2 separate regions of the Homo sapiens genome follow, and region 1 is linked to region 2. The links come from fine-mapping of genetic effects on gene expression. A gene starts in region 2. The other region holds a variant in brackets. All regions are shown on one strand. Distances are between the middles of the regions.

Region 1 (5,183 bases), 160 kb after region 2:
TTTTAAACATTAAAATAAATAGAATTTTTACTTGAGTGGATTAATGTCTCTAAACCTGTGGTTCTTAAAGTTTGATTTGAGTCAGAAAGCCTGGGCAGCTTATCAACCATACAGATACTCAGGACCTACCTATGCTTATTCAATAGAAACCTGTAGAAGTGGGGTCCAGCAATTTATATTTTTTACAAGCCTCTCCGGTACCAGAAAGTCTGAGGATTAATTTATTTGAGTGGTTCCTGAATCTATGTATAGCTTTTTGGTTTGGTTTGGTTTGGTTTGGTTTGGTTTGGTTTGGTTTGGTTTGGTTTTTTGAGATGGAGTCTCGCTCTGTCACCCAGGCTGGAGTGCAGTGGCGTTATCTCGGCTCACTGCAACTTCTGTCTCCCGGGTTCAAGCAATTCTCCCACCTCGGTATCCCTAGTAAGTAGGACTACAAGAGCCCGCCATCACACCTGGCTAATTTTTGTATTCTTAGCAGAGATGGGATTTCCTCATGCTGCCCAGGCTAATGTTGAACTCCTGGGCTCAAGTGATCTGCTCACCTAGGCCTCTCAAAGCGCTGGGATTACAGGTATGAGCCACTGCACCCGGCCTCTATGTATAGTTTTAAGTCACATTATTTACTTGGAATAATAAGTGGCAGGAGAATTGTTCATACTTATGGGTAGATAATGCATAGGTAGATAAATATACAGAGAAAGAAAGATAAAGGAAGAGACATTTCCTTCCTTGTCCTAAAGCCACCTGTTTTGAAGTTGAAGTTACATCATTTTTTAATGTAGTGGAAGCAGTGTACTAGCAAGGAATAAACAAAAATGTTTATACTCTTTGACTTAACAATCCGTCTCTTAAGAATTTGCCTACTGAAACAATCACAGATGTCCATCCCTGAAAATGGCAGACCTTAACATGGTTTAGAAAAAGAATACCTGGCCAGGCGCGGTGGCTTACGCCTGTAATCCCAGCACTTTGGAAGGCCAAGGCGGGTGGATCACGAGGTCAGGAGATTGAGACCATCCTGGCTAACACTATGAAACCCCGTCTCTACTAAAAATACAAAAAATTAGCCGGGCTTGGTGGCGGGTGCCTGTAGTCCCAGCTACTCGGGAGGCTGAGGCAGGAGAATGGCATGAACCCGGGAGATGGAGCTTGCAGTGAGCCGAGATAGCACCACTGCAGTCCTGCCTGGGTGAAAGAGTGAGACTCCGTCTCAAAAAAAAAAAAAAAAAAAAAAAACTCATTAAAGAAATTACATTACTGCCAGTGAAGGAAAACCGCAAACATTAAAAATCAGGTTCAATAATGATACTAATGATGTAGGAAAGTGTTCATAGCATAGTAAGTGAAAGGAAAGTTATCAAATCTACAAATATTAATATTATTCCATAAAAGAAATACGCATGAGCTCCAAGTACTTGAAAGTGGAAGAGAAAACTGGAAAAACATATGCCAAAACATGGGTGGTGAGATGGTAGGTGATTTTACCTACATTTCTGCTTTTCAACTTTTCTTAAGGTGTATGTGTTCATTTTTAAATCAGAAAAAAAGAAATGATAATTATTTTAAGAGTTCTTTTTCCCAACCCATTTTTTTAAAATAAAATCTACTTGGAAAAACAATGAAAAGAAAGGGGAAACAGTAGGATGAACCAAATAACTCTATTGTGTTTCTCATAGCTTCGCTGATCCTGCAAGCTCCACTTTCTGTGTTTGAAGGAGACTCTGTGGTTCTGAGGTGCCGGGCAAAGGCGGAAGTAACACTGAATAATACTATTTACAAGAATGATAATGTCCTGGCATTCCTTAATAAAAGAACTGACTTCCATATTCCTCATGCATGTCTCAAGGACAATGGTGCATATCGCTGTACTGGATATAAGGAAAGTTGTTGCCCTGTTTCTTCCAATACAGTCAAAATCCAAGTCCAAGGTAAAGCCTTCATTATTTTGTGAAGTGAGTTGGTCAAAAGGAGATTCCTTGGGGTCATAGAGATAGAACAGGAGGAAAAGGGTGGACTGGAATACCACTAAACCACAGGACACATTCCTGCAAGGAGCAGAGGAAGTATAGTAGTGTTTTGGGCTGAAGGAAGCTAGGGATCAATGGCATTCCTTTCTTTGCCTGCTTTTGGATGTGCTGCTGCTTGAAGTGTGCTTTTCTCCAAAGCAGTTCCAGCCTCATTGCTCTGGGACTGTTGTGATTCTTCTCTCTAGAGCCATTTACACGTCCAGTGCTGAGAGCCAGCTCCTTCCAGCCCATCAGCGGGAACCCAGTGACCCTGACCTGTGAGACCCAGCTCTCTCTAGAGAGGTCAGATGTCCCGCTCCGGTTCCGCTTCTTCAGAGATGACCAGACCCTGGGATTAGGCTGGAGTCTCTCCCCGAATTTCCAGATTACTGCCATGTGGAGTAAAGATTCAGGGTTCTACTGGTGTAAGGCAGCAACAATGCCTTACAGCGTCATATCTGACAGCCCGAGATCCTGGATACAGGTGCAGAGTAAGTGTTGGTGGAACCTGAGATTTGCTGCAGAGAGGGCTGGAAAAGTGGGACAGGGCTGCATATCAGCGTGGGTCACCAGTCTCTGTAGAAAAAACTCGTACCTGTGAGAATGGGAGTTGTGCAAGCAAAGAGACCTCTACTCTTGTGAACATCTTAGAAGAGCTTAGACCCAGGAAAATCCAAGAAAAGAAAGGTCTAATTTTTTTTCTTTCAATGCCATTAAATACAATTCTTTCTTTTCTCTCGCAGGGTTCTCTTCCCTGACATCATTTTTTTT[TC/C]TTCTAGGCCCATAGGGATAAGCCATGGGCTGTGGCATAGCTCTCTGACTCTGGTGTACAGAGGTATCTGTTGTCCCAATTAACATTACTTATTGACAATAACCAAAGTGAAAATTTCTGTAGGATACAAAGACAGGTTGCAACATTATAGTTACTCCAAATATGTGACTCTGGAGGTTTACCATTCCCTAGTTATGAGTACAAATATGCACCCCAGATTACATCACCTCCCTTACTAGTATACAGCACCATCCTTCCTTCAAAGCTATTATGGTAGTTACAGTGATGAGGGAAAAACAGCTTCTGTAGAGCCCTGTGTCATCCCTCCACTCATGGCAAACTCCGGGCTCACTTATAAGGAGGCAATGTGATCATCACCAGACTAGGAGTCAGGACACCAACTCTGGCCCTGGCTGGCCCTGAAAACAGCCTACACAGGCAGGTCTCCTAGTCTCTCCTTGACTCAGTTTTCTCACCTGTAAATAAAGAAGGTCAGTCTGGGCCAAGGGAGAGAGTAGGAGCAGAAGAAAAAGCTCTAGAAGACTATGCTAATCTTTAAGGAAAAACTAGCAATGGCAAATAAATCCCTGAGGCCAATGCAAGTGAAGGAGAAATAAACAGGGATAGGAAAGAAGACTCAGAATAATTGGGCACTTCAGGTGCAACATTCCATAGTCATAGGGCAGAAGGAAGGAGCAAGAAGCAGGTGCAGGTAAGGGTGTGTGGTTCTGATGGCAGCAAGTTAAGGGTGGAGACTGGAGACTGGGCATTTGCACTGGCCATGCCTTGTAATCTACAGTAAGAGGCAAAAGCAATTCTTGACTAATTTTTTCTCTTGCTCAGTCCCTGCATCTCATCCTGTCCTCACTCTCAGCCCTGAAAAGGCTCTGAATTTTGAGGGAACCAAGGTGACACTTCACTGTGAAACCCAGGAAGATTCTCTGCGCACTTTGTACAGGTTTTATCATGAGGGTGTCCCCCTGAGGCACAAGTCAGTCCGCTGTGAAAGGGGAGCATCCATCAGCTTCTCACTGACTACAGAGAATTCAGGGAACTACTACTGCACAGCTGACAATGGCCTTGGCGCCAAGCCCAGTAAGGCTGTGAGCCTCTCAGTCACTGGTAAGCCCTGCATTCCTGCCAATCACCCACCCCTGGCCAAGAGTCCTGCCTCACCCTGCCCTTCGGAAGTCAGCATATACCTTCCAGTATCCTCAGTTTCTTTCTTGGGAAAACCTAATGTCCTCCTCCACTCTCCGGCTCACTGAACCAGCTGTCTGCCTCTTGAGTCTCGTTGCATTGCAGTCTAGGTGCCCTTATACCCCTGCCTGATGGTGCAGTGGCTTTCTATCCCCTGGTTCCCAATTTCTGAGAAGCCAAGTGCTTTTCTTGTGCTTTCCACTTGTCCTGTGGCTCCCCAGATGACTGATTTTCATTCACTATATTATTCTCAGTAGACACAGACTCAATTTCCAGGAGCACAGAGGTATCTCCTGTTCTGTTAATATCAGACATTAATCAATAAACCAAAGGCAAAGACATGTAAGACACAAAGACAAGTCGCTGGATCATAGTTAACCCAGCATGTCCTTCTTGCTCAAGCCTTTTTTAGAGTTGATGGGCAGTAGGTAAGAAAGGCACGGGCAATGGTGGGCTGGGGGCAGGCCAGGAGATAGCTTCACCTCTACTTGCTTGGCTTAATGCCCTCAGAGCTATTCAGGTAGCTGCCAAATAGTTATGACATCAAAAAGGTTTCCTTTGAGCTTTGGATCTCAGTTTCGAACCATCCATGCATGGCTGAATGCCAGGTCCAATGTTGAAGGAGACAGTGTGATTTGGGTCTATACTGGTGACAGAGAGTCCAGTCTTGGTTGGTCCTGGAAGCGGCATCAGTTTCCTTTCCTGTAAAACAATAATACCAGCTTGGAAGACAAGCAAGAATCCAGTCCCTCCCACATGGATGTGTGAGATTATAAAGGAGAGGACCAGGGAACCCAGCGGGAGACATCAAATGACGTAGAAAGAGAACAGTGTCCCTGACATTCAGTGGCCCAAAGAAAGTGGAGACAGTGACATCATGATCAAACATGCTCAGAGATGTTTAAAGTCCTATTCAATGACTCACTTCTTCACCTAATAAATGCTGATTGCATATATTCCATGGACCAGACTGTACTGACATCTAAAGATGCATCTACGACTACACTAACCTGGCCTTCCCCACACAGTTCGTAGGGGCTAATAGCAAATGCAGTCAAGTAAGAGATTAAACATCAACCTGAGGATAGAAGCACCTGGTGGCTGCAGGAGCAGATGGAAAGGCATGCCAATCTGAGTTGGGAAGTGAGAAAAAATTTCTTGGAAGAACTCATGTGTGAGTTGAGACCTGAGGATGAGTGGGAACA
Region 2 (5,531 bases):
TTAGTTCTTTTACATCTAAACCCATGCCCCAATTGTTTGTGTCTCTGAAAATTTGCTCTGGAACTTTAGACTCCCTCACTCCCTCCCCACTTAAATCTCCACACAGGGGAAGGCGTATACTTGTTCATAAACCCTTCTGCCAGTAGAGTTGCATCCAGGGGGAAGAGCATGGAGTTAAGTTTAGCATGGGGCCAGGTGCGGTGGCTCATGCCTGTAATCCCTGCACTTTGGGAGGCCGAGTGGGTGGATCATGAGGTCAGGAGATCGAGACCATCCTGGCCAGCATGGTGAAACCCAGTATCTACTAAGAATACAAAAATTAGCTGGGCGTGGTGGCACGTGCCTATAGTCCCAGCTACTCGGGAGGCTGAGGCACCAGAATCGCTTGAATCCAGGATGCAGAGTTTGCAGTGAGCCGAGATTGTGCCACTGCACTCCAGCCTGGGCAACAAAGTGAGACTCTTTCTCAAAAAATTATAGTAATAATAATAATAAGTTTATCATGACTCAATTATTCTTCCCAAATTTACTGATCACATAAGGCACGTCACTTCTTCCAGGATGGAGTGAGTTAAGGAGCAGAAGGAGGAACAGGAGTAGGAGTTGCATGCACATGGAAGAAAATAGATGTCCCCCCAACACAACCATTCATTAATATATTCAGGCAAATGAAAAGTTATTCTGTTCAATTAGATTTGGCGTATTTAGCAAATAAAAATATGGGACTCCTAGTTACATTTGTATTTCAGATAAACAGTGACTACTTTTTAAATGCAATTATATCCTGATATGGCTCCATGTCTCCACCCAAATCTCATCTTGAACTGTACTCCCATAACTCCCATGTGTTGTGGGAGGGACCCAGTGAGAAATAATTGAATCCTGGGGACAGTTTTCTCCATACTGTTCTTCTGGTAGTGAGTAAATCTCACGAGATCTGATGGTTTGATAAGGGGAAACCCATTTCGCTTGGCTCTCATTCTCTCTTTGCCTGCTGCCATTCATGTAAGATGTGACTTGCTCCTCCTTGCCTTCTGCCATGATTGTGAGGCCTCCCCAGCCATGTGGAACTGTAAGTCCAATAAACCTCTTTATTTTGTAAATTGCCCAGTCTTGTTACGTCTTTATCAGCAGCATGAAAACGAACTCATACATATCCCAAGTATTGTATGGAACATAATTATAGTAAAAATTATTTGTTTTTTATTTGAAATACAAATTTAAATGAGACCCTTGCATTTTATCTGGCAATCCTCTACTGAGTGTTAGGCACTGTGCTAGGTGCTAGAATAATGTGAATATGACATAGTTCCTGTCTTCAGAGAGAGACGTAGAAAAATGTAACATTTTTGGCTACAGATGAGCAATTAAATTCAAAATACTCTTTTCTGAGCATATCTTTCCAACCACAGGAAACAATACTTCAGAGTCATCAACAACATCGTCACCTTTGAGCATGAAGTATATTTGAGGTTTATTCATATTTTGAATTAGTCTGAAATGACACACTGAATCTCGAAGCTATCCATATCCCACTGAACCTTCCTTTTGTTGATGAGCATGCTGTCCTCAGAGAAATAAAAAATAAGCCCTAACCGCTCCCTTCCCTAAAGATACTTAGATCATTGAGGAATACCATCAAAGGGACAGGATGTTTCAGTTCACTGTGATCGGTTCTGGAGTGAAGGAAATCCAAGTGTTATTGATGCACATGAGAGGAACACCCAGCCCAAATGTGGGAGGTCAGAGAATACCTCTCAGTAGATGTGGCACCATACTCTACAATTACAAGTTTACAAAGACCCTGTAGTGTGGATTAACTGGGTATAGTTTAAATAAATAATTTAATTTAATTTAAATAAATTGATATAACCAATATATCTTCTCCAGAATATTGGAGAAATCTCTAACCAGGAATGACTAAGCACACATTGAAACACATCCAATCCTCTTCTATTGTCATCCTGTTCCTTACTGTTTGTTGGTCGTTCATTTGGCAAGTCCTTATTGACAAATTGGTATGTGACAAGTGCTCTGTTAGGCATTGAAACAAAATGAAGAACAAACCAGGCTTGTTCCCAAACCTTGTAATACTATCTAATGAGAAAAATAGGCATTATACAATCACATAAACATATAGAGAATGATAAAATTTGGTGACTTCCATGGGAGAAAGAACATAATAATATTTGTTAAAAAAGAGGACCCTCTTTCCATTACCTGCCAAGGTTGGGCACCCTGAGGATGGGACATTTGATCTGAGATCATCTCCCATTTCTAATGTAAAGGTATCTGAATGATGACAACTTTATCCTGGTAGGTAGATTCCCAAGAATGGCTTACCTCTAAGTCTAAAACACGCCTTCCTAACAGAAGTTATATCACCTTCAAAGGGGCAAGAATTGACTCTTGGGAAGATGAAAAAAACTAATTTTTTAATGTATCAAACACAGCTATACATGCAGCACATAAACACATACATAGTATATTTGTGGTATTAAATTTTCATGGAAAAAGGGGGTGGCTAAAAACAAAATTGTCTAAAAAAGATCCTTAGGGGAGCAATAACGAAAAAATGGTTGAGAAACACTGGTTCAGAGTTTTTATTCAATAGTCCCTCAAATAATACTTACTAAAGGAATGCTTTCAAGAAAGAACAGTTAGAGGTGCGGGGGATATAAGGGGTAAGAAAAGGGGCCCTTAAATGTTAGTGGGAAAGAAGACACGAAAGCAAACAAGGAAATAGAGAAAATAATTGCAAATTGTTATAAACACTGTGAAAAAAACACAAAGGACCTGAAACAAAATAATGGGGTGGAACCTCTTTGATTGCAAAGCCCTTTCTGAGAAGGGCTTTGGCTTTAAAAACGGTGGTACGCTTGCTGATTTATCTCCTAATTTGCAGATCTGGGTGAGATTACGGGAAGTCCTTGATCTGTACATTTGTATTATTTTCCTGTTCAGAAGCCTCATAACAACTTATGTGAAAGTCAAAAAGGCATATGCTTGACACCTTGACTGTGTGATTCACACCACGCTCATTAAGCTTGCCTACATTAGGAGCTGCATGCAGAACCAAAGGCTGTGTGAAGACAAGGTAGTGAAGGGGTTTCCCATATGAAAAATACAGAAAGAATTATTTGAATACTAGCAAATACACAACTTGATATTTCTAGAGAACCCAGGCACAGTCTTGGAGACATTACTCCTGAGAGACTGCAGCTGATGGAAGATGAGCCCCAACTTCTAAAAATGTATCACTACCGGGATTGAGATACAAACAGCATTTAGGAAGGTAGCCACATTCACATTTTCAGAGCCCAAAGCAAAATATGACACTAAGCTCTTCTTCCCTTTTCTGATTCTTGCAGGTCTCATCTGAGTAGCAGCTTCCTGCCCTCCTTCTTGGAGATAAGTCGGGCTTTTGGTGAGACAGACTTTCCCAACCCTCTGCCCGGCCGGTGCCCATGCTTCTGTGGCTGCTGCTGCTGATCCTGAGTGAGTAGATGGGCTATAATGGGGCCACGGCCTCAGTTCCTAAAGGTGACCAGGGAAAAACTCAAGGAGCTTCTATCTCTGCTTCTACTTGGGGTTCAGAGACAGATAGCAAGGGATGGGAAGTGAGCAGAGCTGGGTTCCCTGGACAACCAAGAGGCTCCAAATGCAACCATCAGAGCAAGCCAGATATCCTGACCTTGGTTTCTCACCCACTGCTTTTCTCACCTCATAGGAAACTTGGATTTTTCCTTCTGCCAAACCACAACTCTATATCCCACCCTCCCTCTTAAGCCTCAGACTAAATAATTTTTCAGATGAGCAGTTACTTCTAAAAACCTAGGCACGTGAAGGAAGGTTTACTGAGAAACATCACTGTTTTCTAGAAGTTTTAAGCCAAAATTTAATCAGAGATTGAAAAAGTGAGGGGAACAATAGGAGCCCAAGGAACGAAAGGAGGATAAACCATTTCTGTAAGTCCTTGTCTGCCTCTGCACTCAGAGAAGAGAAGGAGAGAATAAAGTGTGCCGTGGCCAAGTAAATAATAGCAGAGATGAGGTCAGGCCTTGGACATAAGCCATCACGTTTGTAAAATACATTATATGACATTTTCTTTGTTGTTTAGGGGCTCTGGATGATATAAAAAGGGAGCAAAGAAATGATAAGGAAAAACAAAAGAAGTGGTTGTGGTTAGGTTGTTAGAAAATGTTTCGGAGAGTGTCTGATTGTCATTTTCTGCTCCCTCACAGCTCCTGGAAGAGAACAATCAGGTAAGTTTCTCCTTCTCTCTGCCCCTCTGGTCTCTGGATATTGGTCCCCTCAGCCCACACAGCCTGCCCTAACCCTTGCAGGCACGCATCCCATCAGCAATGCTAATGCTCTGGGGTCACATCTGCTACTATATTGGGTGAACAGAGCCTCCTCCGACTTTTTCAGTCTCTAGGTTTTTTTTTTTTTTTCTCCCTACATTACCGGTATTCCTCAGACTACAGGAAGGAAACACTTGCAGAGCAAAGGACAGAGGCAAGAGGCTGATGATGAAGGAATCTCATATGTGATCTCCATATTCTCTAGTACATCTCCCTCTGAATGTCCAAGCTAGTGCTGCTATCAAAGGACATAGAAATAGATCCCATCCACGGAGGAAGATGCTACAGCAGAATCCTTATAAATCTCCAAAAAGAGCTCATGCCACTGCCACACCTCACTTCCATGCCTGTCAGTCAGTTGCAATTCCATACACAAGTCTGACTTCTCAGGCAACCCATCCTCCTCCATTTAAATTCTTTATATCCCTCCATTGTTTACTGTGTCCAACTTAAATGGAGAGTAAAGTTGCCTTCCCCATAGACTTTCAAAGCTAAGAGAGATATAAAAGTAATACAAGTGAGAAAATCTTATTCATTTTAAGTGTTAACAAGTAGGAAGTAATTTTCTGGAGTCTAGAAACTACTTCTGAGGTATATACATCCCAGGTTCACCTTTATCTGGACAGAAATGTATAGGACAAGAGAATTTCAGGATCAGCCACATTCTGAGGCCTTCGCAGTTTTTGCCCAATGGCAAATCACATCTCCTGAGCTTTTCTGAGGCTATGCCAGGAAACTGAGACCTCTCCCCTATAATACCCTTCTGCCCACCTCCAGGAAATGGATGAGGAAGAACAGATTCTTTCCCAGGCATTTCCCTAGGTTATTTCTGCTCAATTTTCCACCCTGGTCCTGACTGGAAATTAGTCCAGGAAAACTCCTGACTGTAGGTTGGGCTCCCCATGTGCTGTGCCCACCTCCCATTGACCTTCCCCTGCCTTCATCTTTCTATTTCCTGTTTAGGGGTGGCCCCAAAAGCTGTACTTCTCCTCAATCCTCCATGGTCCACAGCCTTCAAAGGAGAAAAAGTGGCTCTCATATGCAGCAGCATATCACATTCCCTAGCCCAGGGAGACACATATTGGTATCACGATGAGAAGTTGTTGAAAATAAAACATGACAAGATCCAAATTACAGAGCCTGGAAATTACCAATGTAAGACCCGAG

The links. PIP is the estimated chance that this variant, and not a neighbour inherited with it, causes the effect.
Region 1: its variant is the best candidate, but not a certain one, in a credible set for the expression of FCRL3 in whole blood (TOPMed, PIP 0.52).

What each region holds. Positions count from the first base shown.
Region 1 is chr1:157,541,576-157,546,758 of GRCh38, reverse strand. It overlaps FCRL5 (Fc receptor like 5), which reads left to right. Exons shown (of 17, transcript NM_031281.3): 4 at 1,677-1,928; 5 at 2,213-2,497; 6 at 3,622-3,900. Among named protein-coding and RNA genes, the nearest start is that of FCRL5, 8.3 kb to the left of the region's middle. The variant TC/C (reference allele first, on the strand shown) is at 2,778.
Region 2 is chr1:157,698,426-157,703,956 of GRCh38, reverse strand. It overlaps FCRL3 (Fc receptor like 3), which reads left to right and starts at 3,188. Exons shown (of 15, transcript NM_052939.4): 1 at 3,188-3,295; 2 at 3,372-3,498; 3 at 4,245-4,265; 4 at 5,328-5,531. The coding sequence starts at 3,468.